5 linked regions of the Homo sapiens genome follow. The protein of the gene in region 1 interacts with the protein of each later gene in a pairwise test. Each region holds a gene or a part of one and is shown in the gene's direction. Other genes may lie near its edges.

Region 1 (5,217 bases):
CCGGCGGCGCGTGGGGTCTTACGGATCCTGTCGCCTCCACATGCTGGGGCCGGCACCCCCACCACCCCGAGACCCTCGCCCACCCTCCCCCTCCTCTGGCGCTTCCTCTGAGAACTGAACCTGATTCTCGGTGGTCGGTGACCCTCAACAATACACGCCCCTCATTCTCTGGCTAGATTTAATCTGATGCGGGTTATCTGCTCCGACCCCGCCCTTCTTCCAAAATATACTTTTCTGATGTAATTTTGTGGTTGATTTAAATCAGAGACTTGGGTAGTGGAAAGGGAGGGAAGAGGCTTTGCACGCTGCAGCCTGACAGTTAACTCCCTCCGTCTGCCCCTTCCGAGAGAGGACTGGGGGCCACATTCGGTGAAGGGCTGCAAGCTTCCTCCCGGGCTGCGGGAATTCTAGGGGATTGGGTGATACCTCACCCGGATCCCTAATTAAAAGGAGCCTGCAACCTCTGATAGTGGCGTTTCTGAAGGCTCGCCCCCAGCTGACTCCACTCCTAAGCCTGCTCGCCAACCGCAGCTTCCCTAGCTGGTATTTTAATGCGAAGGGTTGGGAGGCACTGCCTTAATAGGAATTTTGTTTTGATTTTTAGGTGTTGAATCATAAAGCTGAATTGAAACTGCTTTTTAGATGCTGTCATTTGGGGGTCAGGAAGCAAATGGCTGTGATTTAATAGCAGCAACTTCTACAGATCAAGTAGAGAAGGGTACTTCATTGATGAAGTACAGTCTTCGACTCAAAATTTTATTTTTGTCTGTGGGTTTAAAAAGCGGAAATATATTTTGCTCTCAAACTAAGTATTCCCACAAATACTTTAATAAAATGGAAAGGATGAAAAGGAGGAATGCTCAGACCAGCCTTCTGGTTGTAATTTTTGTAATTTTTCGGCTCTTTTCTACAAATATTTACAAATAGAGATATTTTTCATGAGTAGATTAAAGGACGAAATTTTGTTTCCCAGGCTTTTTAGGTCCTGAAATAGTCATTACTAAGTCTTTTTTCCTCCTTAAATTTTCCTTTAGTTGTTAACTTTTATTTCAAATGACCTCTCTGCATTGCCCAGCATGGGTTAGAGTTTTGTATATATTTGTATGTGATTTTCCTTTTAGCGGAGATCCAGCACTGTTTGGTCAACGCTGGCGATGTGGGGTGTGGCGTGTTTGAATGTTTCGAGAACAACTCTTGTGAGATTCGGGGCTTACATGGGATTTGCATGACTTTTCTGCACAACGCTGGAAAATTTGATGCCCAGGTAAAAATCCATCCAGAGCATGAAGAATGTTTGGGGTGAGCATACATGATTGAAACGTTCATTGGAAAGCCTTGTTAACCAACTTCCTTTGCTGTTCCTTGTGGTGTGTTTTAGTGCTTGCAAGCGACAGTCTAGGTATAAAACATTATGCCAGTGTCTCCCTTCTGCACTCATAAGCTGTGTCTACACAGGCAGGGTGGACTGGAGACCAATGTCATAATAAACGATAAACACCTTGTAAGGGGACACGCTGTGTCTGGCCACCCAGAACTCAGTCTCCAAAGCCCACTGCATGAGAGGCAGGGGCAGGAACCCCCAATTATACATTTCAGAAGTCATTTCACCTACTAGGAAAATGAGACACAAAGTATGTAGAAATCCGTCATGTGGTGTGTGGGCAGCCAACCCGAATAACTCAGGACCTCCAAAAGAGCAGACTTCTATTCCTCCTGAGTAGCAGATCTTTCTCTCCCAAGCTGACCGGTCGAAACCCTGATTGAGTCCTTCAGTTCCACACTTTCCTTTTGCTCTATATGATAAATATAGTCAGGGCCTGACCCACTTCGGTTATCCCAGGGTCCCAAGGGGAACGCGGAGTTGCTGCTCAGGGCAAGGCAGGAACACAACAAGCAACATATGGCTCCAGTGCCAACAACGCAAATACATTTTTAGATGGCATGTGGCATCAGACTCACCTTCTTCGTGTTCTCCCTGGCCACTTATATGCCCTGTTGAAACGCCCTGTTACTATATCTCAGAAACGTCTCTCCTGCTTCATTGGAGAGCAATGCCAACATTTGGAGGTGGCCATCAGCTTAGGTGAGATTTATGGATGTCACCAGTCCCCATCCACTGACATATAGTAGTGAGCCTGACAAAGCAGTGCCTGGGAACAAGGAGGGGAGGCGAAGACGGGGCTGGCAGCCTAAACTGCAGAGGATGTGCGGTGTGGCCAGAGGGGAAACTGAAACCAGGGAAGGAAAGAGGTAGAACTTTGAACTCCTTGAGGCTCCCTAATAAAGCATCACTCTGGATTAACGGGAATTAGGAAACGTAATAGGAAATCCGGAGGAAAGACGTGTATTTAAGGGCAATCCCACAGGATGTCAGGGAAGAATACCAAGAACAGATTGCCACAGCCCTCGCATAAATTCATCTTCCTCTTTTTTTTCCCAACCAACAGGAATACGTTCTCAAGTTAGAGACATCCCTTTCAAGTTGATGCTCAGCACATAACTGCTTAATAAACGGGCACACCCTGCCCTCCATTCTGTTTGGCTCTGGCTGGAGAGTCAAAAGAGAGGGGGCCACGGGGAGGCCATGCGGGCCACATGGTTTTTCAGAGATCAGACGCTATCTGTAGACATTTCTATGGCTGCTAAAGACAAAACCAAAATAAATGTGCTGGCTGGCTTCCCACTTCCAACCTAAACCCATTTACTTTCTCAACTCAGTGACTTCCGGGCCTGTCTAAAAACAGAGGGGTGACCTCTCCGACGACAGCTAGTTTCTATAGTAATGTGGGGTGCGGGGATTCCCGGGTAGGCATCCCACAATGCCTCCGGGCTGCGCGAGGTTGATAAGGGAGCAGCACCGAGCTCGCCTCCACACCCCCAACAGCTGTCTCCTTTCTAGGATAAGCACAATCAGACGGGGTTGCCAGGAAAGAGAACTGCAGGCCAGATGTATGCCTGGCTGCCTTCGCCACTCGGAGGCAGGGAGCGTGGGGGAGGGGCCGCCAGTGCGGCAGTTCAGACTCCAGATGCTGCCAGGCAGGGTGCCAGGCCAGCCTTTTAGAGGCAATAATCCGAACAGTTTAAAGGAGTAGAGTCATTTTCAAAAAGGAAAAGAGCGCTCTTCCTGGTAGGGTAGGAGGAGACAAGGGTATGGATTTGGGGCGTGGGAGGCACGGAGGCAGAAAGGGAGGTACAATCAGCAATCAATCTCGGTGTCGCCCCTGGAATCAAGGGAAAAAGGAAACGTGTGAGATTTGGACATGCAGGCACCTTCCACTTAGGGAAGACTGCTTGTGAGAACCGTGAGGGATTTATGGATTTGTGTCTGGCCAAATTCCCTTTGTGTTCCAGAAAAGTTGCCACCACACAACCAACACAGGGCTACCTGAGGGACACATAGCCACGGAAGCCCCCGTTGGAGGGAAACTCACAGAGTAGCCAGGGAGGAAGGAGGGAGATGTGTTCGTCTACAGAATGAACATCCCTTGTTGCCCAGTGCTGGGGGTGTCATGTCACTCTGGACGTGCCTCCGGATGTCGCATTGCCTGTCACCTGGGAGGACGTCCGTCTCTGGTGGGGCCTTGGGGTTCTGATGTCAGAAATATCCTGTGTAAGCCCAAGAAGGGCTGAAATGTCCAAGCATGTAACGAGGTCTTCTGCTTTCTGCCCCTCTCTCCCTTCCCCGGCCTGTGTGTTCTCAGGGCAAGTCATTCATCAAAGACGCCTTGAAATGTAAGGCCCACGCTCTGCGGCACAGGTTCGGCTGCATAAGCCGGAAGTGCCCGGCCATCAGGGAAATGGTGTCCCAGTTGCAGCGGGAATGCTACCTCAAGCACGACCTGTGCGCGGCTGCCCAGGAGAACACCCGGGTGATAGTGGAGATGATCCATTTCAAGGACTTGCTGCTGCACGAGTGAGTACTGCCCCGCAGAGGGCCTGGGTGAAGGGGCCACCCAGCAAGGATGGCAATGTGTATGGGAGGAGAGCCGCGTTGCTTCTAGAGGCTGAATGCCTGTCAAATGGAGAAGGCTTCCATTTACTTCAGAAAGCTACACTGACTCTACTAAAAGGCCCCTTTCCTGCTGGCTTTTAGGAAAAGAGAGAATTCCCTCATCAGTCTCAAAATCACAAGCAACAGAAATGGGAAATCGTTTTACTAAGAATGAAATGTGTCGATTCAGTAATACTCTTCATCTTCCCCTTAGCCAAGAACCCACTAGCTCTCAGAATATTCTGAGTAGCTGTAGAGGTGTCCTTACAGACAGCAAATTGCTAATAACATTTGTTGAATATTTACTAAGCGCCAGGCACTGGGCTAAGGGCTCCTTGTGAATTTTTCACTTGATCCTCACCACAGCCCTCGTCACCTCCATTTGACAGATGAGAAAACTGAGACTCACTAAGGCAGAGCTCACACAGCTAGTGACAGGCAAAGCCAGACTTGGGACCTGGCTCCAGTCTGCTGAGCAGTCTGCCTCCAGAACCTATACTCTTAAATCCCGAAAACAGAGCTATAGATGCTTTTCCTGCCTCCTTAACTTTCCTTTCCCTTAGAAGGTTCGGTTTACCTTCTCTCATACATTAGTGCCCTCTCAGAGGAAATGCAAAACAAGTGCCAAAAACTTTAATCAGCTAAACACTTCTATGCCAAAACAAGGAAATGTGAACTTACTTATTTCAAGACTTGAAATTCAATGATAAATTCAGGATGCATCATTTCTTACAAAATATTTCAGCCACAGGATCCTAAATTTTGCAGCATGGTAAAGCATGTTGGTACACAATTGTTCCTAACATGAGGCAGGGCCAGGAGCCCCTGAAGATTTTTTTTTTAAATATTGACAATGGCTCTTTCCTAAGAGACACAGGGCAGAAAGAAAGCCACTAGCCAACCAGTTCAGTACAAGTCATTACCAGTTTGATGGCACTGTTGGTCTCTCCACGGTGACTCATTGAGCCAAATCGGTATAATTTTATGAACTCTTGATCCTCAGTTTGTGCCACAACCTTCTTCCAGTTATGTCCCTACCACACCAACACCACTTAGATGACAGAGAACAGCAAGCACCTCCTGTCTCTTTCCACTTGGTTATAAGGTCATAGGCATCTTGCAACACCCTTGCTACAGTGTTAGAATCATACAATTCATGGCGAAACTCTGCAGGAAGCTCTTGCCAAAAGCAAAACAATATTGCATTTTCCTCGAATTAGGCTAAC
Region 2 (6,618 bases), on another chromosome or scaffold:
TTCTATACTAAAAATTTTATTTGATTTGGAAATTATGGCCTGTGTGTTTTTTTCCTTGAAATCAGTGAATAGAACTGGATTAAGGAAATCTTTTTGAAAATAACGATGAAAACAAGAGTTTAACAATATAAAACTAGAAATGCTGAGGTTAAAACTTGCCAGTGATAGCACCTTGCCATGAATAACTCTGTGTGTGCATGTGTGTGTATATGTGTGTTATTGTATTATTTACAGAAGGTAGAGTCTTTCTATTTCTGCCAAGTTATCATATTTCTCCAGTGGGCTCTGAGGTGCTTCTGGCCTCTCTTCTTGCTGTAGGTATCATAGGACTATGGATGAGCATCCCATGGCTTGGGCAGAAAGTTCTCTCAAGAGTTCTGCGTTCTCCATGAGAATTTCCAAATTCTCACAGTAATCTAATTCTCAACAACCTAAATACTTCTGATATTTGTAAGTAACTGTTGAAAATGCAGGTAAATTTTAACTTGGAAAGAAATATATTGTAATTTAAAAGTTCTGAATCAAAAAAATAATTTGCCCTTTTAAACAATTGAAATGAAAAGTTTCTGCCAAAGTGACAGAAAGAAGGCTTTCAGCCAGCCTCTGGGGAAAGCTCAAAGACTTCCACTTTGGTTTACTTTACACCTAATAATTTTAAATGACATTTGAGTACATTATGAAAGATATAGTAGCACTGATGTACCAGTGCCCAACTCAAAGAACTCTGAAAAGACTTGCAAACCTATGAGTCTAGACTGGCTTCTTTTACCATTCACACCCAATTAAAAGCGCAGGAAAAGCCTCAGAATCAGTAGAAACTTTTCTGCGTGACCATTCATGAGGTATTAGGTTGGTGCAAAAGTAACTGCGATTTTTACTTTAAGGGCAAAAGCCATGATCACTTTTGCACCAATCTGATATAATAAGAATTTAGCCTCAGGAGGAAGAACAAAGCACCTTATCTTATATTGTAGAAAGTGCTGGAGATGGTGAGTAGCTAATCTAGGCTTGTGATTCAGGGAAAAAATTAAGGTTCAAAATATTAATTTTAATTGATAAGTGAAATATGCTTCATCCATATGTTGGAATCCAAAGTCATCAATTTTTAAAAACAACACTTATTTACATTCCCACCAACAGTGTAAAAGCATTCTTATTTCTCCACAGTCTTGCCAGCATCTATTGTTTCTTGACTTTTTAATAATTGCCATTCTGACTGGCTTGAGATGGTATCTCACTGTGGTTTTGATTTGCATTTCTCTAATGATCAGTGATGTTGAGCTTTTTTTCATATTTGTTGGCTGCAGAAATGTCTTTTGAAAAGTGTCTGTCATATCCTTTGCCCAGTTTTTGATGGGGTTTTTGTTTTGTTTTGTTTTGTTTTGTTTTTTATAAATTTGTTTAAGTTCCTTGTAAATTCTGGAAATTAGTTCAACCATTGTGGAAAACGGTGTGGTGATTCCTTGAGGATCTAGAACCAGAAATACCATTTGATCCAGCCATCCCATTACTGAGTATATACCCAAAGGAATATGAATTATTTTAATATAAAGACACAGGCACACATAGGTTTATTGCAGCACTATTACATAGCAAAGCCATTGAACCAACCCAAAAGCTTATCAATGATAGACTGGATAAAGAAAATTTGGTACATATATACAATGGAATACTAGGCAACCATAACAAGGAATGAGATCATGTCCTTTGCAGGGACATGAGTGAAGCTGGAGGCCATCATCCACAGCAAACTAACACAGGAACAGGAAACCAAACACCGCATGTTCTCACTCATAACTGGGAGTTGAACATTGAGAAGACATGGACACAGGGAGGGGAACATCACACACCAGGACCTGTTGAGGGGTGTGGGGTAAGGGGAGGGAACTTAGAGGACCAGTCAATAAGTGCAGCAAACCATCATGGCACATGTATACCTGTGTAACAAACCTGCACATTCTGCACATGTATCTTGGAACTTAAAGTAAAATTAAAAATAAATAAATTTAAAAAAACACTAATAAGAGACAGCATATACAATGCCACAGAAAAGGAGAAAAATTCACGGGCAAGGATATCATCTCAGATATTTTTCAATGAGGAAAATAAATTAGAGAAAAGAATAATCTCAACCCCTTATATACATGAAACGTTTTATTGTTCACACTAAAGAGAATGTTGAAACACCTAAACTAATCTAGTACTACCTCTGGAAAAAAAATTATCAGCCTATGATCATAGGACATTACAACCATTTTTATGTGAAGTATAACACACCACTAACACAGCAGATGGAGCTCAATAACTGCCAGGCAAGTTGCTGCAGCCATGATATGGTGTAGCCATTGGGAAGTGGGTCGTCCTGGAGCTTGGACTGAAACTTTCTCAAGGGTGTTTTGGCCAAGTGACCATATTGACACTAGGCTGTCACAGGTGGCTTCAAGTTCTAGGAGAGTCTTTCTAATGATATCTTGGGATTTTTGATTCACATCAAATGTGAGCATTTCCTATTATGAGTGAGTGTAAAGACTTCACCATATCCTAAGATTAGAGGATTTTTAGCACATGCGAATTTATCATTGTGTTTGATATGTATCACAGGTGTGCTAGCTCTACTTCTGGGATTCACTCTTTGTTAGATCAATAAATAATGGAATAATAAGATGATAGTGATGATTATGACAATGATTTTAAAAAGATCAGAGATGTTGGTTGTTGTGTATGCGTCTAAATAGAAACAGTAAACATATACTTGTATAGGTAATTCATTCATCATGTCTACTCAAATTGGTCTTGTGTACAGCAGTATCATTGCTGTGGTTGTTTCTAATATTGTCAGGAATTTTGAAGATGGCTGTAGTTGTCGATATTACCAAGTGATGCTATCAGCAAGACAGTAGGACTGTGTTCAAATGCATGCCTTCAAAGTTCTTTTGCTTCCATAATTTCTGAGTCATACTTAGCAAATGGTTGTGAAGTCTTAAGTGAAGAACTGTTGCGTTTTGTCAGTGAATACGTGATTGATTGCAGAAGAGCACTTATTTCAATGGCTGTTGGTAAGAATAGATAAAATTCTACCCAAGATAATTGATATGAATCTTCCTGAAATCTAACATTCCAGAAATGGAAAGTGGAGCCTTTTCATCAAGGGTTCAATGAATCTTCCTTTCTGACTTAGGTTAATGCCACCTTCTTCTCTTTCTCTGTTTATTCCTAGAATGCAGGCTCAACAGTACCAGCAGCAGCGTCGAAAATTTGCAGCTGCCTTCTTGGCATTCATTTTCATACTGGCAGCTGTGGATACTGCTGAAGCAGGGAAGAAAGAGAAACCAGGTAAGCAGTAGGGTTCTGAAGGCAAGATGCTTCATTGATTAATGTCCATCTAGTCTAATTACCTGCTTTTCCTTCCTCTCTTCTACTCTGCCTCTCTCCCTTCCTATTCCTCTATTCCTTCAATCTTCCCTTTTCAAAAATAATTACTTAGAGGAACCTAAGAAATATCCTGTCTTATTTTTCTCCCATTGTAAGTCTTGGATTGCATGACGATGATGATCATTAATATAATGATCAAATTAGCAGCTACTATGTATAGAACATTGACCGGTAATCAGGTGCTTTATTATTTACCTCTCTACCTCAAAAAAAAAAAAATGCACTGCAACTTGTTTTTCTCCTTAATTTCAGATTTACAGAGGAGGAAACAAGCACAGAGAAGATAAAGCACCTTCTCTATGCCACTCCCAAAGTCATAAGTAGGCTGTGGAACTGACAGTCTGTTTAAATCTGTGATGCACCATATTTGTATGATGTCATTCCTTCTACAAGGCAGAGAAAGGAACAACAACTTACACTGAAATGGCTCATTTGACAACTGTTATTTCTTTTTTTTTTTTTTTGAGTTGGAGTCTCGCTCTGTCACCAGGTTGGAGTGCAGTGGTGCGATCTCAACTCACTGTATCCTCTGTCTCCCGGTTCAAGTGATTCTCCTGCCTCAGCTTCCCGAGTAGCTGGGGCTGCAGGCATGCACCACCACGCCCAGCTAATTTTTGTATTTTTAGTAGAGTTGGGGTTTCACCATGTTAGCCAGGATGGTCTCGATCTTTTGACCTTGTGATCTGCCTGCTTCGACCTCCCAAAGTGCTGGGATTACAGGCATGAGCCACTTTGCCCAGCTGACAACTGTTATTTCTAATAGAATATTTTCTTCATTTTTAGGAGAACTATATTTTTGACCATCTCTTCTTTTATAGAAATGTTTGCTTCTAAAAGGAGATGCCACTAAATCACTTAGCACAGTCTCTGGCACATAGTAAGAGGGAGTTCAATTAATATTAGTTTTAGCTCTTTTCTCAGTTTTCTTTCTCTCTTCTCTTGATCATTCATTGGTTCAATAATTTGGTTAATATTCATCATGTTTCTACTATTCATTAGACAATAAGGATACAGATTAAAAAACACAGATCCTGCAATTAAGGTGCTCAGGAATGAACTTGGTTATATCTGGAAGTTAAGGAGTTTTCTGTATGTTGATTAGGTTTTCCTCCTTTCATTCAGAAAAAAAAGTGAAGAAGTCTGACTGTGGAGAATGGCAGTGGAGTGTGTGTGTGCCCACCAGTGGAGACTGTGGGCTGGGCACACGGGAGGGCACTCGGACTGGAGCTGAGTGCAAGCAAACCATGAAGACCCAGAGATGTAAGATCCCCTGCAACTGGAAGAAGCAATTTGGCGGTAAGCCTCATGCTACTGAGTTAATCTCCTACTCTGAGATAATTCTCAAATTTTTCCACCAAATGTCTTTTTAAGGATAAGTACTTTTTATTTTAAATAACTTTATCTTACCAGACACAAAGTGACCAGACTGGTCCCATTTCAGGCCAGGCAATTATTTGTTGTGGAGGCTGTCTTGTGCATTTTAGGGTATTTAGGAGCATCGCTGGCTTCTACTCGCTAGTTTCCGGTAGCATTCCTCACCCGCTCCAGATGTGAAAACTAAAAATGTCTCCAAATATCTATGGCCAAATGTACCCTGTTGGTCAAAATCATCCCTGGTTGGGAACCACTGCCTTTCCAAAGGGACATAAAATATATCCTTGATTCCTCTGAATAATGTTAATTGATCTGTCTTCTCTCTCCTTTCTTCTATTTCTAAGTTCCTTTGATTTTTCCTTTCCCCTTTTCTTATTTATTCTCCTGCTTCTCCATGTTTCTCCCTGTCACTTTCAGACCTTCTCTCCCATTTGATCCCTCCCCAACCTCCACACAGTTTCACAGATTCACTTACTGAGTTCAGCAGGGCTGCTCACAGCCACGTTTCATAAATCTTTCTCCCACTGACTGGAGTCAGTCTTATGCTGGCCTGATCTATCTATCTGAGACAGGATCTCTCAACACTTTCAACTTTATATCCAGTATTGAACCCTCAAATAACCTCTTCCACAATCCAGACTTTTTGTCTTTCTTAGCCATAGTGGGACATGATGCCTGAAATGTCCTATCTGTGTTCTATGGAAATGCATTGTGGCCCATAGACAAGTGAGGAAGGATAATGGATGTATACATGTATGTCTTTTTCTCCCTCTGTAATCTTTGGGGTATTTTTTATTTGAATGGATATAGACAAGTTCTATAAAAGTGTGATGGAGAACAGGTACATTTGGTCTTAAATTGTATATGGGCACCTTAAAAACCCACTTACAAAAAGTTTAAAAGGTATATCTTAAAGACTTACATTGAGAATATTAAATAACTCTCAAACTCAACAGTAAACAACAAAACAACAACAACAAAAAACAAAACAAACAAAACCTAACAGTTCAATAAGAAAGTGGGGAAAAAACATTAACAGACATTTTACCAAAGAGGATATATAGGCAACAAATGAACTCCTGAAAATATATTCAGCATCTTTTCCTTATTAGGGAACTAGAAATTGAAACCATAATGAGATATCACTCTACATCTATCAAAGTGGCTAGAATAAAAAATAGTGACAAGACGAAATGCTAGTGAGGGTGCCAAGAAACCAGATCCCTCATATGTTGCCAGTGGAAATTGTAAGGTGGTACAGCCACAGTGGAAAAAGAGTATTGCAGTTTTTTACGAAATGAAACATGCATTTACCATGTAACACAGCAGTTTCTTGGTAATTTATCTCAGAGAAATGAAAACTGATGTTTCCACAAAAACCTATACATGAATTTATATAGCAGTTCTATTTGTAGTAACCCAAGGCTGGTAACAACTCGGATGTCCTTCAGCTGATGAATGGTTAAACAAACTGGGGTACATTGGGACCATGGAATACTACTCAGCAATAGGAAGAAACAGACTATTGATGCACATGACTTGGATGGATCTTCAGGAAATTATGCTAAATAAAAAAGCCAATCTCAGAAGTTTACATATTGTAGAATTCCATTTATGCAACATTTTTAAGCTAGAAAAATGATAGAGCTAGAGAACAGATAAGGAGTTGCCGGGGATTAAGGAGGTGGGGAAGGAGGAAGGTGGCTAGGCCATGACTATAAAGAATGACCCACTGTTGTATTGGGACTGTATATTAATAGTGTATATTAGTGTGTATTAATGGTGTATATTGATGGTGATCGTATGCATCTA
Region 3 (6,618 bases), on another chromosome or scaffold:
TTGCTTGGGTAGCTAGGTAGATAGTTATGCCATTAAGTAGGAAAAGGAATAGGAGACAAGGAACAGGTGTTTTTTTTTTGAGACAGAGTCTCACGCTGCCACCCAGGCTGGAGTGCAGTGGCACGATCTTGGCTCACTACAACCTCCGCCAGGGTTCAACCTCTCCCGGGTTCAAGTGATTCTCCTGCCTCAGCTTCCTGTGTAGCTGGGACTACAGGCATTTTCCACCATGCCCGGCTAAGTTTTTGTATTTTTAGTAGAGACAGGGTTTCACCATGTTAGCTAGAATGGTCTCGATCTCAGGACCTCGTGATCTGCCCACCTCGGCCTCCCAAAGTGCTGGGATTACAGGCATGAGCCACCGTGCCTGGCCAGGAAAAGGTTTTAATGAATTTTATTTTCATTAAAATAATGAGTTCAGCTTTGGTCACATTGAGTTTGAGGTGTCCTATATTTAGATGTAATAAATCAGGGTGCCAAAGCCTGAGGCCCAGTCTTGTGATCCAGTGTTCATTCCATTATTAGAGTTGCCTCCAATAGGAAGGGTGGTAGCTTAATAGCTCTCTCTTTGTATTGAATGAAGATTTAAAATGTTGGAGTCTCACCCTGTCGCCCAGGCTGGAGTACAGTGGTGTGATCTCAGCTCACTGCAACCTCCACCTCCCAGGTTTAAGCAATTCTCCTGCTTCAGTCTCCCGAGTACCTGGGACTACAGGCGTGTACCACCACTCCCGGCTAATTTTTTTGTATTTTTAATAGAGACAGGGTTTCGCCATGTTGTCCAGGCTGGTCTTGAACTTCTGACCTCAAGTGATCTGCCTGTCTCGGCCTTCCAAAGTGTTGGAATTACAGGTGTGAGCCACTACGCATGGCCCCCTTTGGTTTTTTTGTTTTTTAGAGACAGAGTCTTGCTCTGTCGTCCAAGGCTGGAGTACAGTGGCATGATTTCAGCTCATTGCAACCTCTGCCTCCTGGGATCAAACGATCCTCCCATCTTAGCCTCCTGAGTAGCTGCAACTACATGCATGCCACCACACCTGGATAATTTTTCTTTCCTCCTTTTTTTTTTTTTTTTTTTTTTGGCAGAGACAGGGTTTCGCCACGTTACCCAGGCTGGTCTTGAGTTCCTGGGCTGAAGTTATCTGCCTGCCTTGGCTTCCCAGAGTGTTTTTTATATTTCTTCCCATTTGTATTTTTGATTAATGTTCTTCTGAATTCTTCATATCAAGGAGAAGTGGCATATAATATATTAAAGTGTGGGCACCATTCATATAGACCTGAGGTTTTTTTTTGTTTGTTTGTTTGTTTTGAGACAGACTCACTCTGTTACCCAGGCTGGAGTGCAGTGGGGTGATCTTGGCCCACTGCAACCTCCACCTCCCAGACTCAAGCAATCCTCCCACCTAAACCTCTGGTTTTTTGGAGTTTTTTTATAGAGACAAGGTTTTGCCATGTTGCCCAGGCTGGTCTTGAACTCCAGGGCTCAAGTGATCCGCCTGCCTCGGCCTCCCAAAGTGCTGGGATTTACAGGCATGAGCCACTGCGCCCAGCCAGCATGTCTTTTAATCCAAGATTCCTCATTTGTAAGATGAGATTGTTCTAAGAATTAATTGGGGGGAGGCCAGATGCAGTGGTTCACGTCTGTAATCACAACACTTGGGGAGGCCAAGGCTGGCGGATCCTTTGAGCCCAGGAGTTGGAGACCAGCCTGGGCAACAGAGCGAAACCTCATCTCTACAGAAAATACAAAAATTAGCCAAGCATGGTGGCACATGCCTGTAGTCTCAGCTACTTGGGAGGCTGAGGTGGGAGGATTGCCTGATCTTGGGAGGTTGAGGCTGCTGTGAACTGCGACAGTGCCACTGCACTCCAGCCTGAGTGGCAGAGTGAGACCCTGTCTGTAAAAAAAAAAAAAAAAAAAAAAAAAAAAAAAAGAATTTATTGGGGGAATGCAGGTAAAATATATTGAAAAGGCACAATAATATTAGCAGTTGTTATTACACCTAGAAATAGACCAAATCTAATTGAAATAATGGAACCACTGTCTATATGAGTAAGTTTTTGTTTTTCTTTCTTTTTTTCTTTTGTCCTATAGAAGTCATTGTGGTTACAACCAGGGATGTTCAAAAGGCTCTATGTGCAGAATTCAAGATGAAAATGAAGCCAGATATTGTGTGTATTCCTGATGACGCTGACATGGGAACTGCAGATTCTTTGCGCTACATATATCCAAAACTTAAGGTGAAAAGCAATTTTTTGACTCTTCTTGTTTATTGAAGATAGATGATATCTTATGTTTTCCCAGTGCATTATAGTCTTTTTTTTGAGACAGAACCTCGCTCTGTCACCTAGGCCGGAGTGCAGTAGTGTGATCTCAATTCACTGCAACCTCCACCTCCCGGGTTCAAGCAATTCTCCTGCCTCAGCCTCCCAAGTAGCTGGGATTACAGGCATACGCCACCGTGCCTGGCTAATTTTGTATTTTTAGTATAGATGGGATGTTGGCCAGGCTAGACTCGAACTCCTGACCTCAGGTGATCCACCCTCCTCGGCCTTCCAAAGTGCTGGGATTACAGGCGTGAGCCATCACGCCTGGCCCCCAGTGCATTATAGTTTACAAAACTTTATTTCTGATATATTTTTACATCACATACTTTGTTACCCATGTACTCTTCAGTTGCTCTTTGATTTGGTTACTAGTAAAGATTTAGACATTAATTTGTCATAGTCACTGGTTTCCAATGTTTTTGAGTAATAGCACATTTTTATTAAAAAAGAAAAAAAAGACATACTCTAGGCCAGGCACAGTGGCTTATGCCTGTAATCCCTTTGGGAGGCCAAGGCAGGTGGATCACTTGAGGTCAGGAGTTTGAGACCAGCCTGGTCAACGTGGTAAGACCCTGTCTCTACTAAAAAGACAAAAATTAGCTGGGCATGGCGGTGCACATCTGTAATCCTAGCTACTGGGGAGGCTGAGGCAGGAGAATCGCTTGAACCCAGGAGGTGGAGGTTGCAGTGAGCCGAGATCATGCCACTGCACTCCAGCCTGGGCAACAGAGTGAGATCCCATCTCAAAAAAAAAAAAAAGATATACTCTAAATGTACTTCAAAAGATTCCATTCATATGAAGTTTGTGAACAAGCAATGTTAATGTATAAATCAGAGGAGCAGTTGACTCTGCAGGTGAGGATTGACTAGAAAGAAGTACAAAGGAACGTTCAAAAATTCATAGACCTCCCATGTAATATTTGAACTTTTAGTTAACCTTTGGTTAAGAAACTAAGGAGCACATAGATATGAGAACATAGTCTCCCCAATGGTTTGTGGCCCATGAGCTGAGAAAGATCCACTGTAGATTGTTCTAAAATTGTTTTTCTTTGGAAAAAATTCAATCGTTGTGATGTTGCCATATTACTTGAAATGGGAGACAAACTTTCTTCTGTTATTTCTGGTGATTAAACGGATGTGTTATTTTCAACCGACTTTTGTACTATAAAACAAAAAATTAATGCAAATATGTACATGGCTTTCCCACCCCTTTTATTGAGGAATAATTTATACACAGTAAAATGCACAGATACTAAATATACACCTAGATTACCATTATCCAAATCTAGAACAATTCCATCACCCCTGAAAGTTCCTTTGTGCTTCTTTCTAGTAAGTCTCTGATCTTCTGAGTCAACCACTCTTCTGTTTCTATCACTATGTATTAATTTTATTTGCTTATAAACTTCATATAAATGGAAACATACAATTTTGTTCTGGCTTCTTTTGTTCAACATATTTTTCAGATTCTTTCATGTTATTGAAAGTATAACTAATCTGTTCCTTTTCATGCTTAGTAGTATTCCATTGAATGAATATACTACTATTTATTTATCTATCCTCCTATTGACAGTTATTTGGGTTGTTTCTAATTTTTGGCTATCATGCATAAAGCTATTATGAGCATTGTTCTGCAGGTCTTTTTGTGAAAATATTCTATAGGCTGTAAGGTTTACTTTATTGGAAACTAGCAGTTTTCTAAAGTGATTGTACCATTTTATACTTTCATCAACAGTTTGTAAGAGTTGCGTTTGCTTCACGTCTTCATCAACACTTGGTGTTGTCAGTCTTTTTAATTTTAACCATTCTAGTAGGTATGTATGTAGTGGTATCTCATTGTGGTTTTAATTTACATTTCCCTGATGGTAATGATGCTGAACACCTTTTCATGTGTTTATTGGCCATTTATATATGTTCATGAAGTGTCTGTTCAAAGCATTTGTCTATTTTTTAATTGAGTTGTTTGCCTTTCCATTATTGATTATAGGAATTCTTAATATAGTCCAGATGCAAGTCGTTTGTGAGATATGTGTTGTGAATATTTTCCACCAGTCTGTGGCTTTTTATTTAATGGTGTCTCTTGAAGAAAAGTTTTTAATGATGATGAAATCCAAATTACTGATTTTTTCTTTTATGGTTATTGCTTTTTGTGTCCGGCCTAAGAAATCTCTGCCCATCTGACCTTTGTGTAGATGTTCTTCTATGGTTTTGTCTTTGTTTTGTATTCTTTTTGAGACAGAGTCTTGCTCTCTCACCCAGGCTGAGTGCAGTGGTGCAATCTCCACCTCCACTGCACCTCCTCACCGCACCACCTCACTGCAGCCTCCACCTCTCAGGTTCAACTGATTCTCGTGCCTCAGCCTCCTGAGTAGCTGGGATTACAGGTGTGTGCCACCACACCTGGCTAATTTTTGTAGTTTATAGAGACAGGGTTTCACCATGTTGGCCAGGCTGGTCTCGGGCTCCCAGGTTCAAGTGACCTACCCACCTTGGCCTCCCAAAGTGCTGGGATTACACACATGAGCGACCTCACCCAGCTCAGATTTGACATCTTAATATTGAATCTTTTGATCCTTGAACATCGTATATATAGTAATGTGCCACATAACGATTTTTGGTCAATGACTGGCCACATATGTGGTCCCATAAGATTGTAATACCATATTTTTACTGTACCTTTTCTATGTTTAGATATGTTTAAATACACAAATACTTACCATTGTGTTACAGTTACCTATGGTATATAATAACATACAGGTTTGTTACCTAGGAACAATAGGCTATACCATATAGCCTAGGTATGTAGTAGGCTATACTATCTAGGTTTGAGTAAGTACATTCTATGATGTTCGCACAACGAAATCACCTAACAATGCATTTCTCAGAACATACCGGATTTCTCAGAACATATCGCTGTCATTAAGTAACACATAATTGTGTATCTATTTATTTAAGTTTCGCTTAATTTCTCTCAACTGAGTTTTGTAATTTTCAGTGATGATTTTTTTTTTCTTGAGACAGCCTTGCTCTGTCGTCCAGGCTGGAGTGCAGTGGTGTGATCAAGGCTCACTGCAGCCTCAACCTCCTGGGCTCAAGTGATCTCCACATCAGCCTCTCAAGTAGATGGGACTACAGGCACATGCTACCATGCACAGCTAATTTTTTAGATTTTTATTTTAGTAGAGATGTCTCACTGTGTTGCTCAGGCTAGTTTCAAACTCCAGGGCTCAAGCTGTCCTCCCACTTCAGTCTCCTAAAGTGCTGGGATAACAGGCATGAGCCACCACACCCAGCCCAATGTAGAAATTTTGAACATGTCTTGATAAATTTATTCCTAGGTAAATATTTTTAATGATATTGTAACTGGTATTTTTTCTATTTTCAATTGTTTATTGCTTGTACATAGAAATACAATTGATTTTTGTATTTTGGCATTATGCGCTGTGACCTTTTAAATTATAGATTCGTTTAGGACCTTATCATCATATTGCCTGCAAATAAAAACAGTATTATATCTTCCTTCTTAATCTTTATTCTTTTTAAAAATTAAATTACATTAATTTTATTTTTTGAGACAGTCTCACTCTGTCACCCAGGCTAGTGTGCAGTTGTGTGGTCACAGCTCACTGTAGCCCCAAACTCCTGGGCTCAAGCAGTCCTCCCACCTCAGGCTCCCAAGTAACTAAGTAACTAGGACTACAGGCATGTGCCACCATGCCCGGCTAATTTCTTTTTTTTTCTTTTTTTTTTTTTTAGACCAGGGTCTTACTTTGTTGTCCAGGCTGGAGTGCAGTGGCTCGATCACGGCTCACTGTAACCTCGACCTCCCCAGGCTCAGGTGATCCTCCTACCTAAGCCTCCCAAGTAGCTGAGACTACAGGCATGCACCACCACACCTGGACTTTTTTTATATATAGAGAGAAAGGATCTCACTGTATTGCCCAGGCCTGGTCTGGAACTCCTGGACAGAAGTGATACCCCCAACCTTGCCCTCTCAAAATGCTGTGATTACAGGCATGAGCCACTATGCCCAGCTCTTTAAAAAAAAAAAAAATTGTCTCATTGCCCTGGCCAGGACCTCCAGTACAATGTATATAGGCATTTCCATTCACTTTTGGCCTTCCTTCTACTTTTCTGTATTTTCTCTCAAGTGGATTTTGGGTGCTTCTGATTAGAGTGGGGGCTTCCAATACAATAATGTGGGGTGTGTTGCTTTCTGGAGTACCGCTGATTATTTGTTTAGAGAATATTTGGGGAATTCCATTAGGGTAATGAGAAGAAAATTTGGGT
Region 4 (6,108 bases), on another chromosome or scaffold:
TGCTATTGTGCAATCCGTTGGAGTCAGCAGTGGCAAGTTACTTATCAAGCTGAAAGACGGCAGGAAGGTAAGGAAGGAAAAGATAGTCTGCCAAGAGGCCTTCCAGTTCTCCACTCCCCTTGCCTCATTTTTACTCCTTCATTTGACACCAGTAGATTAGTTTTCCTGGCAGTTGCCATTAACCTGATATAATTTTCCGAATTAACCATCCCTCCATTAAAACAGAATGATGAGAGCCAGAGTAGGCTCCTGTGAACCACTTTCCCTTAGCCCCATTCTATCTGTCTCACAGAGTTTTGAGTCCTGGCTAGGGTGGCAGATTTCTGTTCGAATGACATGGGGGATGTGCATGGGATGGGGTGGTGGAGGCTTATGAAATAGAACTTAAAATCCATTTATCAGAGGTAAGTTAACCCATGATTTTTTAAAGTCCCAATTCTTAATGGCATGAAGGGCCATTGTTACGCCTGTAGGCATAAATGGAAACTGTGGTAATTGACTGAATTATTTCTTTTTTGCCTCAGGTAGAAACTGACCACATAGTGGCAGCTGTGGGCCTGGAGCCCAATGTTGAGTTGGCCAAGACTGGTGGCCTGGAAATAGACTCAGATTTTGGTGGCTTCCGGGTAAATGCAGAGCTACAAGCACGCTCTAACATCTGGGTGGTAAGTGTGCTACAGCATGACCAGGCATAATTCATTCTCCCTAGCCTGTGAACAAGTCTGCCCGGTGGTGTGCTAAAGCTCATCAACAGCCTAACCAAATAGGGTCAGAGTGTTTGGAGGCTGAGGGTACAGAATAGAAATGTGTGAACTGCTTGATTCAGAAGACCAGGTATGGCCTCATCTGCAAGCTAGTGGCAGATGAAATGAACAGTGTGCATGCCTGCAGGGGTAGAGCTCTTCCGGTTCTACTTATTGGCAGCAGCTACTGGCATAACCCCTGGTGGGCATGCACATAAGCCTTCAGATGGATCTGCTGTTCCCTTTGCTCAAACTTGAATCCGGAGGATGGAGGATGAAGCAATGTTATAACCTGTTCCCTAGAAAGGAAAATTACTCTGTTTTCATTTTCCTTGAGTACTATTTTTAGCTGTTTTTTACAATCTATTATGACATAAACAAGACTATAGTATGTAGGAACCATGAGGTAATTTCCCCATTGCTAGTTACAAGTGTATTGTGTTTGTTTATGGACTCTGCAACTAAGGACGTAGGTACCTTGGAGGAATTTTTTTCCCCCTCCAAACCTTGTTTTTTTTTTTTTTTTTAAAAAAAAAAAGATGTACTGGATCTTTTTAACCTGTTATAAAAGTAATACGTGGGCCAGGAGAAGTGGCTTACACCTGTAATCCCAGCACTTTGGGAGGCTGAGGCAGGTGGATCACTTGAGATCAGGAGTTTGAGACCAGCCTGGCTAACATGGTGAAACCCTGTCTCTCCTAAAAATACAAAAATTAGCCGGGTGTGGTGGCACAGGCCTGTAATCCCAGCTACTTGGGAGGCTGAGTGAGGCAGGAGAATCACTTGAACTAAGGAGGCAGAGGCTGCAGTGAGTGGAGATCATGCCACTGCCCTCCAGCCTGGGCAACAACAGAGCAAGACTCAGTCTCAAAAAAAAAAAAAAAGTAATATGTGGTCAATGTAGAAGACAGACAAGAAGGAGAGAGGAGAGGAAAGTCACCTGCAGCAACCATTAATATTTTGGTGTATTTCCTTCCCTGTGTTTCCTTGCATGTAGGTTTTATTGTTGGTTTGTTTTATTCGTGGCAAGCATACTATATATAATATTCTGCTCTTTTCCACTTAACACCATAAATGTAAGCATTTTCTATGTTGCTTCAGACTTTGTAAACAGTTTAATGACTATATATTCCATTAAGCGAATTTCACAGTTTACGGTTGCTCACTCGTTGGATTTTTAGGTTGCTTTGGGGGAGTCTAAATAGCCACAAAGATGAACAAAGGGTTAGAGAGCTCAAATGCCACATCCTTCATGAAGCTGGTCCAGTTCACCCCCGGCTGGAGGTTCTCGCCCTCTGCTTGAAATACTTGACTCCTTTAATCTGTACCTCTCATATGGCACACTACTGTTTACATTGCTCTGTAGTTGTGAGCAAGGCTGTATCTTTCTGTACTAGGTTGTATGCTCCTCATAGTCAAGGTCCATGTCAGTTTTGTCTCAGCAACCCGGACAACATAATACTTTTGTATATAATAAGTACTCCATAAATATTTGTCGAATGAATGAATACTGAGTGACAAAAAGAAATCTAAGAAAACATTTCTAGGTGAGAGGCAGTCACATCCAAAAACTGGTTTCTACATATAGAAAAGAATATTCTGCAAATCATGGTTATTAAATATCCTGTCTGTTAAGGAAAGAACAGGAAGTAGACATAAGTAAACAAAACTATAGAAGATTTAGGTTAGCTTTATGGAAGCAGAATAGATTTTTTTTTCTTTTTTTTTTTGAGGCGGTGTCTCGCTCTGTTTCCCAGTCTGGAGTTCAGTGGCACGATCTCAGCTCACTGCAACCTCCGCCTCCTGGGTTCAAGCCATTCTCCTGTCTCAGCCTCCCAAGTAGCTGGGATTACAGGCGCTTGCCACCACACACGCCTAATTTTTTGTATTTTTAGTAGAGATGGGGTTTCACCATATTGGCCAGGCTTGTCTCGAACTCCTTGTGATCCACCCACCTTGGTCTCCCAAAGTGCTGGGATTACGGGCATTTGCCACTGCACCTGGCCTGGAATAGATGTTTTAAAATGAGATCTCAGGCCAGGCGTGGTGACTCATGCCTGTAATCCCAGCACTTTGGAAGGCTGAGGCAGGCACATTGCTTGAGCCCAGGAGTTCAAAACCAGCCTGCGCAACATGGCAACACCCCATCTCTACCAAAAAAAAAAAAAAAATTTAGCCAGGCATGGTGGTGCATTCCTGTAGTCCCAGCTACTTGGGAGGCTGAGGCGGGAGGATCATCTGAGCCTGGAGGTCCAGGCTGTGGTGAGCCATGATCGCACCACTGCACTCCAGCCCAGGCAATAGAGTGAGACCCTGTCTAAAAGAAAAAAAAAAAATTTAAATGGGTTATCAGCTGTTTTTGTTAGTTTAAGTACAACTCTGGCCTGTAGATGGAAAACATGAATTAGTTACCATTACAAGTGTTCTTTGAGCCCCCAAAGTTTATATTTTGTCTTTAACTTGCTTTTTTTTTTTTTATCATGTGTTCATGTTATGTATTTGTTTCCACAGGCAGGAGATGCTGCATGCTTCTACGATATAAAGTTGGGAAGGAGGCGGGTAGAGCACCATGATCACGCTGTTGTGAGTGGAAGATTGGCTGGAGAAAATATGACTGGAGCTGCTAAGCCGTACTGGCATCAGTCAATGTTCTGGTAATAGTGGTGTGCCTTGGAGACCCAACTGATTACAACTCAGTATCTCTAGGACCATAACACAGAGTTATGGTTTGGTTTTATTATGAGCCAGTTAGCTTCATACAGAAGGGAAAAAAGTCCATCTTATGTCCACACATTCTACCCTCAGGTAGCCATCTGGCAGAAGTGTCCTGTTTAGTTTTTCACCAAACTGATCCTTTTGTAAAACATTAAAAGAGAAAAAAATTATTTTAAGTGTTCTGTCTGGCGTATGTTAGACTAGGTGAATGAATGGAGATGGCACCAGCACTTCCGGCAAAATAGGTCAGAGGCCGAGGTGGGCGGATCACGAGGCCAGGAGTTTGAGACCAGCCTGACCAACATGGTGAAACCCCGTCTCTACTAAAAATACAAAAATTAGCTGGACGTGGTGGTGCATGCCTGTAATCCCAGCTACTCGGTAGGCTGAGGCAGGAGAATTGCTTGGACCCAGGAGGTGGAGGTTGCAGTGAGCCGAGATCACACCACTGCACTCCGGCCTGGGTGACAGAGCGAGACTCCGTCTCAAAAAAAAAAAAAAAAAAAAAAGGAGTGTCAGAAAGCATTCCAGTCCTAAAAGATGAAGGCTGGTCTGGTATGGTTGCTCATGCCTCTAATCCCAGCACTTTGGGAGGCCAAGGCCGGGGGATTGCTTGAGCCCAGAAGTTCGAGACCAACCTGGACAACATAGCAAGAGCTCGTCTGAATTTTTTAAATAAAAAGTTTTTAAAAGTTAAAAAAAAGAAAAGTGGAGGCTAAGGGGAAATACTGTAGGTTAATGAAGCCATAAAACATCTCAAATTCTGAATTCCATAAATGTGGAACACTCTTTAAAGCTTCAAAAAGGGAATTTCAAGACAAAAGTAGTGAATAGCAAAAGTGGGAACCTCATCACTTTCCAAATGTGGCATGGGATAAAAGCACGAATAAATTCAAGAACGTTTCAATCACCGCATGGATATGTGGTCGTGTATAATGGCTTTTTAAGGAAAAGTCAAAGCTATTAGGGTTAATCTTACTTTCTCATGGTCATCCCTAGATGCTCTAGCAACAGCAGATCAGTTGGCATCTCTCGTGATCTGCATACTAAGTTCTTTGGTTGGCATAAGAGTGCGGTGTTGGTCGGGTGCGGTGGCTCACATCTGTAATCCCTGCACTTTGGGAGGCCAAGGCGGGCAGATTACTTGAGGTCAGGAGTTCAAGACCAGCCTGGCCAACATGGTAAAACCCCGTCTCTACTAAAAATACAAAAATTAGCCAGGGTGGTAGTGGGTGCCTGTAATCCCAGCTACTCAGGAGGCTGAGGCTGGAGAATCACTTGAACCCAGGAGGGAGAGGTTGCAATGAACTGAGTTCGCACCCATTGCACTCCAGCCTGGGCAACGAGTGAAACTCCGTCTCAAAAAAAAAAAAATGCAGTGTCATGGAGAATATGTGCTACCGTGTCATTCCTTACAGTCCCTTGACAGAACACCCTCTTCTCTCTTCTTAGGAGTGATTTGGGCCCCGATGTTGGCTATGAAGCTATTGGTCTTGTGGACAGTAGTTTGCCCACAGTTGGTGTTTTTGCAAAAGCAACTGCACAAGACAACCCCAAATCTGCCACAGAGCAGTCAGGTAAGAAAGTCCTAGCACTCCTCTTGGAGAGTGTTGAGAAGCAGTGGTCCAGATTCTCCTGAACAAGGGGTTTCTGTATTGGCCAGAGGGGCTTGTCAGTGAAAGCCTCTCTTCATGTTGTGCTTTAAAAGAAACCAAACCCCAAGTCCTCACTCTTTAGTGGTCTGAGATTTGGCAAAATCAGGTATCCTGGTCAAAGCATAGATTCAAATATTGTGGGTATCTGTCCTAGACAGTGGACAGTGGCTAGCTCAATGACACTGCTGTTTTGTGTGTCTCTGGGAAGACCTTTCTAAGGAAGAAAACAAGAAAACCTGAACTTTTTAGATTGCGTTTTTATTTTTCTTTCTTTCAGTTGTCATTTTTATTATTTTGCTTCAGGCGAATCTCAAGAACACGGCCTGATAGGCTTAGCTTAAGACTGGCTATCCTCCATGGGTCCTGCGCAGGGAGGAACTGGGCTGAGTAGTTATTTAGCTGCCTCCCATTCCATTTGGCAGATCTTAGTGCCAGGTTTTCTTTAGATGGGAGGCACCTCTCTTGGAATGGACTTCTCTCCCACACATGTCTCTTTCATTAACTCCGAGACCTTATTCCTTGACCTTAGCTCAAGTTATTTAACTTCTGCATCCTTTTGCCAGAGGTGTCTCAAGGGCAAGGTGCTGTTTAAGAAGGAGAAAGCAAGACATTATATGGATATGTAGGTCCTTTTCCTGTGTAATTCTAATGTATTCCATATTCCTTAATTCTGATCTCTCCTAGTAACCTAGTAAGTGGATTCATGTCACTGCTTTGTCGACTGGACAGTATTATTTGGAGGCTGGTGGTTCTCAGCAAGGTGCCCCCTTCCTATGCCACCCTTCCCTTCCCCTCTTTCTCTAGGAAGAAATGCCTCCACTATGGTTTTTCCAAATGGAAGTGCCTTCTGCTTTGTCTAAAGTACCTGTCTAATAGCACTGTCCAATAGAACTTTCTGCTGCGATGGAAATGTTCCATCTCTGCTCTGTCCAGTACGTTAGCCACCAGCCACATGTGGCTTTTGAGCTCATGAAACATGGTGAGTACAGATAAGG
Region 5 (5,316 bases), on another chromosome or scaffold:
GCGAACACGGTGAAACCCCGTCGCTACTGAAAATACAAAAAAAAATTAGTTGGGCGTGGTGGTGGGCGCCTATAGTCCCAGCTACTCAGGAGGCTGAGGCAGGAGAATGGCGTGAACCCGGGGGGCAGAGCTTGCAGTGAGCCGAGATCACACCACTGCACTCCAGCCTGGTCGTCAGCGAGACTCCATCTAAATAAAAAAGATTGTATGTTGAAGAACCAAGGGGTAGAAGTTACAGAGATGCTCCGATCGTTCAGCATGTGGAAGAACTATCAGATAGCTAGAACTGTCCAAACAGCAACAAACTTCCCCTTAAGAGTAGTGAGATCCCTGTTAATATTCAGAAGGTGATTAGAAAATGCTGGTTAGAGATGATATAGAAAGTTTTACTTTTTATAAAAAAAAAATCTCTAAAATATATTAGACTAAGTAAGATCTGTCAGAGTTCCTGCTTAGACTTTGTTTAATCCAAAAGGAGTATAGGATTGAGCAGGATGTTTCATGAGCTTTAGTCTAGTATGGAAAAGTAGATGTTTTTCTGTGGGATTCCATAATGCCCCTTGAGCTTTTTTGTTTGTTTGTTATTCCTTTGGAATGTTTTCTTGTCATTAAAGTACAAAATCAACAGGTGTATAGTTTTATGTCAATTTTATTGCAGTATAATTTACATATAATAAAATCTACACATTTACGTATATAGTTTTGGCAAATATATGTGTAACCACCACCATAATCAAGATAGAGAAGATTTCTCTCACTCCAAAAAGTTGCCTCGTAGCCCTTTGCAGCAGCCCACTCCCAGGCCCAGGCAGCCAGTAAATATTTTCTTCACTGTAGATTGGTTTTGCTCTCAGATTAATGTTTAAAAATTGGACACCAGGTCGGGCGTGCTGGGTCACGCCTGTAATCCCAGCACTTTGGGAGGCCGAGGCGGGCTGATCACCTGAGGTCCGGAGTTCAAGACCAGCCTGACCAACATGGAGAAACCCTGTCTCTACTAAAAATACAAAATTAGCCAGGCGTGGTGGCGCATGCCTGTAATCCCAGCTACTCCGGAGGCTGAGGCAGGAGAATGGCTTGAACCCGGGAGGCAGAAGTTGCTGTGAGCTGAGATCGAGCCATTACACTCCAGCCTGGGCAACAAGAGTGAAACTCTGTCTCAAAAAAAAAAAAAAAAAAAAATTGCACACCAAACATGGACATACCACATTTTTTCCCCCTCAAAAAAGGGTAAAATATCTATTGCCATCTTTTATCATTTCCATTTCCTAAAAGGGATTTTTTTAAAAATGTTTTTTATTTTTGAGACAGAGTCTTACTCTGTCACCCAGGCTGCAGTGCAGTGGCACCATCTCAGCTCATTGCAAACTCTGCCTCAAGTGATTCTTGTGCCTCAGCCTCCCGAGTAGCTGTGATTACAGGCACCTGCCACCACGCCTGGCTAATTTTTGTATTTTTAGTAGAGATGGGGTTTTGCCATGTTGGCCAGGCTGGTCTCAAACTCCTGATCTCATGTGTTCCTCCTAAAAGGGCATTTTAATATGAAATAAGAAAGTGAGCTATGTAACTTTAGGATAAATTAAATTGATATGTTTTACTTTATGTAAAACTCACAACACCATCCTTGGCTGATGTAGGATGGTGAAAACTTTGTTATGGAGCAGTGTTTGGGAACCATCGTAGATGACTGGAAAGGTCTCTTCAAACCGTAAGATTTCAACATCATGAAATAGGTTGTCTGGAAAGGAGAACAGGCTAGAAGTTAGGAATCTTTCCCAAAAGCCATTTTTTTAAGGCTGGAATAGAAAAAGCTAACCACTCTTGGGCCTCACCTCTTGTCTTCTCTCTCCAATCTCTCCCCTCTCCTCATCGTGAACTGTAGAAGAAGCGTGTGGAGGGCCCTGGCTCCCTGGGCCTGGAGGAATCAGGGAGCAGGCGCATGCAGAACTTTGCCTTCAGCGGAGGACTCTACGGGGGCCTGCCCCCCACACACAGTGAAGCAGGCTCCCAGCCACATGGCATCCATGGGACAGCACTCATCGGTGGCTTGCCCATGCCATACCCAAACCTTGCCCCTGATGTGGACTTGACTCCTGTTGTGCCGTCAGCAGTGAACATGAACCCTGCACCAAACCCTGCAGTCTATAACCCTGAAGCTGTAAATGAACCCAAGAAGAAGAAATATGCAAAAGAGGCTTGGCCAGGCAAGAAGCCCACACCTTCCTTGCTGATTTGATATTTTTGGTCATGGAGAAGGGTGGGATTGGGTGGGAATGGGGTGGAAGGGTGATGGGGAGCTAATGAACTAGGGAGAAAAACTTTCCATGTGTGCGGTATCGTCTTTCAGAATGTCTCCTGGCATCCTAACCATGTAATATGACAATTGGGGGTGGGGTTGAAATAGCCCATAAAGACCTGTCTTCACAACACTTGCATTGTAGAGAAAGGCTTCTTATATCCTTTTCAATAGACTGCCCTGGCTCTTTCCTAGGCCTTCCACTACCTCCTTTCTTTCTCCCACTTTCTAGGATCATTTTTATGTAAAGTCACATATCCCAGGCCCTCAGGTTGAATCCAGAGCTGTAGAGGTTACAGTAGCATCACCAGCCTTGGGGGTCCAGAGCCTAATTTATATTCACTATCCTTCCAAGTCCCGGGTAGCAGAAGGGTTGCCATAGATCTCAGTTTGATCAAAAAGAAGGCTTAGAATTCTGCAGTTAAGCTGAGGTTTAAACTAAAAAATGTTTCCTTGGGTCAGTGGTTTTGAGGTCCAGTAGCTAGGCTTTTCTCTTTTGTCCTTCCTGTTGGAATGAAAACATTTCGATTTTCCTTCATCTGTGACTGGTGCCATAGACACAGGTTTATAGTTTTAACTTACAGTATTGTTTGAAATTTACCTGTTTTTCTTGTCAAACCTGAGCACTCCTCCTGCTGAAGTTTCTTATTTAATTCCAGAGTACTGTCCTCTACTCTAAGGCATTACTTTTAAGTGTATTATGAAGGCAGTTTTCAAAGGATATGACCAGTTGGGGTAATTCAAATTAAAAAGGAAAAGATTTGTTTGGAAGTAACTGGTGTCTCTAAGAGGAATTTTTAGATGTCAGTTTGGAGGCTCTTTCCCCCCTCAATTGAGAGCTCTTGTTATTCAGAGCTCCAAGACTAGACCTGGCTAACAAACATAGGAGACAAAGTTAGGAAACATTGATACAAGCTTTGTACAGAGATTTGTACATTTGTGTAATAGGCCTTTTCATGCTTTATGTGTAGCTTTTTACCTGTAACCTTTATTACATTGTAAATTAAACGTAACTTTTGTCATTTGGGTGCAGGCTGTGAATTTGTCTCTCAGTCACTGATTGCCACTGCCATCTGGAAATGTTTGCTAAAGGCACAGTCACTGGGCTTGGGAGGCAATGCTCCATCCCCATTATATTACAAATAAAGATGCCCTAAATGAGTGTGGAAATTCTAATGAGAGAATGTAGTCCCCAGACTGAAGCCTCACAAAGCAGCGTTGGTTCGGAAGTGCTTGGTGCCCTTCATCAGGAGACCTCATGACGGGAGACGGGGCTTTAGGGCGTTTGCATAAGCCCTATCACCCACCCTGCAGTTAGAGCTCTGTGCATTTGAGCCATAGCTTGGTGACACAGGAGCAAACGGAAGCTAAAGGTAAGTAAGTTTAGGAGGGATTTCAGCAAGAATTTGAATTGAAGGAATATGCCTGCATACGGAATCTCATTTGCAGTAAGTATACTGTGTTTGTGAGACTTACATGTGGCTTTGAGATGAAGATGCCAGCTAGGTTCCAGATCCTTGGGTCAAGTGCAGACTCGTAGGAGGAGCAACCTTCTGAAGAACAGAAATTCATAACATCAGCTGTGCAAAGAGTTGACTTCCCCACAGGGTCTGTAAAAATGAGTGTCTCCCTCTCCCCCTCCCCCTCCCCCTCCCCCTCTCCCTCTCCCCACGGTCTCCCTCTCATGCGGAGCGGAAGCTGGACTGTACTGCTGCCATCTCGGCTCACTGCAGCCTCCCTGCCTGATTCTCCTGCCTCAGTCTGCCGAATGCCTGCGATTGCAGGCACGCGCCGCCACGCCTGACTGGTTTTGGTGGAGACGGGGTTTCGCTGTGTTGGCCGGGCCGGTCTCCAGCCCCTAACCGCGAGTGATCCGCCAACCTCGGCCTCCCGAGGTGCCGGGATTGCAGACGGAGTCTCGTTCACTCAGTGCTCAATGGTGCCCAGGCTGGAGTGCAGTGGCGTGATCTCGGCTCACTACAACCTACACCTCCCAGCCGCCTGCCTTGGCCTCCCAAAGTGCCGAGATTGCAGCCTCTGCCCGGCCGCCACCCCGTCTGGGAAGTGAGGAGTGTCTCTGCCTGGCCGCCCATCGTCTGGGATGTGAGGAGCCCCTCTGCCTGGCTGCCCAGTCTGGAAAGTGAGGAGCGTCTCTGCCCGGCCGCCATCCCATCTAGGAAGTGAGGAGCGCCTCTTCCCAGCCGCCATCACATCTAGGAAGTGAGGAGCCTCTCTGCCCGGCCGCCTATCGTCTGAGATGTGGGGAGCGCCTCTGCCCGGCCGAGACCCCGTCTGGGAGGTGAGGAGCGTCTCTGCCCGGCCGCCCCGTCTGAGAAGTGAGGAGACCCTCTGCCTGGCAACCACCCCGTCTGAGAAGTGAGGAGCCCCTCCGCCCGGCAGCCACCCCATCTGGGAAGTGAGGAGCGTCTCCGCCCGGCAGCCACCCCGTCTGGGAGGGAGGTGGGGGGGGTCAGCCCCCCGCCCGGCCAGCCGCCTCATCCGGGAGGGAGGTGGGGGGTCAGCCCCCCCGCCCGGCCAGCCGTGCCGTCCAGGAGGGAGGTGGGGGGGTCAGCCCCCCGCCCGGCCAGCCGCCCCGTCCGGGAGGTGAGGGGCGCCTCTGCCCGGCCGCCCCTACTGGGAAGTGAGGAGCCCCTCAGCCCGGCCAGCCACCCCGTCCGGGAGGGAGATGGGGGGGTCAGCCCCCCCACCCGGCCAGCCGCCCCGTCCGGGAGGGAGGTGGGGGGGTCAGCCCCCCGCCTGGCCAGCCGCCCCGTCCAGGAGGGAGGTGGGGGGGTCAGCGCCCCGCCCGGCCAGCCGCCCCGTCTGGGAGGTGAGGGGTGCCTCTGCCCGGCCGCCCCTACTGGGAAGTGAGGAGCCCCTCTGCCCGGCCAGCCGCCCCATCCGGGAGGGAGGTGGGGGGGTCAGCCCCCCCGCCCGGCCAGCCGCCCTGTCCGGGAGGGAGGTGGGGGGGTCAGCCCTCCGCCCGGCCAGCCGCCCCGTCTGGGAGTTGAGGGGCGCCT

Evidence for each region.
Region 2: the proteins of STC2 (region 1) and PTN interact in a two-hybrid assay, tested with the Homo sapiens proteins (one large-scale study listed by BioGRID and IntAct).
Region 3: the proteins of STC2 (region 1) and EIF2B3 interact in a two-hybrid assay, tested with the Homo sapiens proteins (one large-scale study listed by BioGRID and IntAct).
Region 4: the proteins of STC2 (region 1) and AIFM1 interact in a two-hybrid assay, tested with the Homo sapiens proteins (one large-scale study listed by BioGRID and IntAct).
Region 5: the proteins of STC2 (region 1) and PPP1R8 interact in a two-hybrid assay, tested with the Homo sapiens proteins (one large-scale study listed by BioGRID and IntAct).

Annotation. Positions count from the first base shown.
Region 1 is NC_000005.10:173,321,915-173,327,131, reverse strand, and holds part of STC2 (stanniocalcin-2 precursor), read left to right. Parts: intron 1-1,121; coding exon 1,122-1,264; intron 1,265-3,701; coding exon 3,702-3,913; intron 3,914-5,217. UniProt on the Homo sapiens protein: Has an anti-hypocalcemic action on calcium and phosphate homeostasis.
Region 2 is NC_000007.14:137,251,574-137,258,191, reverse strand, and holds part of PTN (pleiotrophin isoform 1 precursor), read left to right. Parts: intron 1-3,217; 5' UTR 3,218-3,218; coding exon 3,219-3,333; intron 3,334-4,554; coding exon 4,555-4,728; intron 4,729-6,618.
Region 3 is NC_000001.11:44,973,938-44,980,555, reverse strand, and holds part of EIF2B3 (translation initiation factor eIF2B subunit gamma), read left to right. Parts: intron 1-2,095; coding exon 2,096-2,241; intron 2,242-6,618. UniProt on the Homo sapiens protein: Acts as a component of the translation initiation factor 2B (eIF2B) complex, which catalyzes the exchange of GDP for GTP on the eukaryotic initiation factor 2 (eIF2) complex gamma subunit.
Region 4 is NC_000023.11:130,130,602-130,136,709, reverse strand, and holds part of AIFM1 (apoptosis-inducing factor 1, mitochondrial isoform AIF precursor), read left to right. Parts: coding exon 1-67; intron 68-524; coding exon 525-665; intron 666-3,254; coding exon 3,255-3,397; intron 3,398-4,910; coding exon 4,911-5,035; intron 5,036-6,108. UniProt on the Homo sapiens protein: Functions both as NADH oxidoreductase and as regulator of apoptosis.
Region 5 is NC_000001.11:27,848,211-27,853,526, forward strand, and holds the end of PPP1R8 (nuclear inhibitor of protein phosphatase 1), read left to right. Parts: intron 1-1,882; coding exon 1,883-2,236; 3' UTR 2,237-3,466; downstream 3,467-5,316. UniProt on the Homo sapiens protein: Inhibitor subunit of the major nuclear protein phosphatase-1 (PP-1). It has RNA-binding activity but does not cleave RNA and may target PP-1 to RNA-associated substrates. May also be involved in pre-mRNA splicing.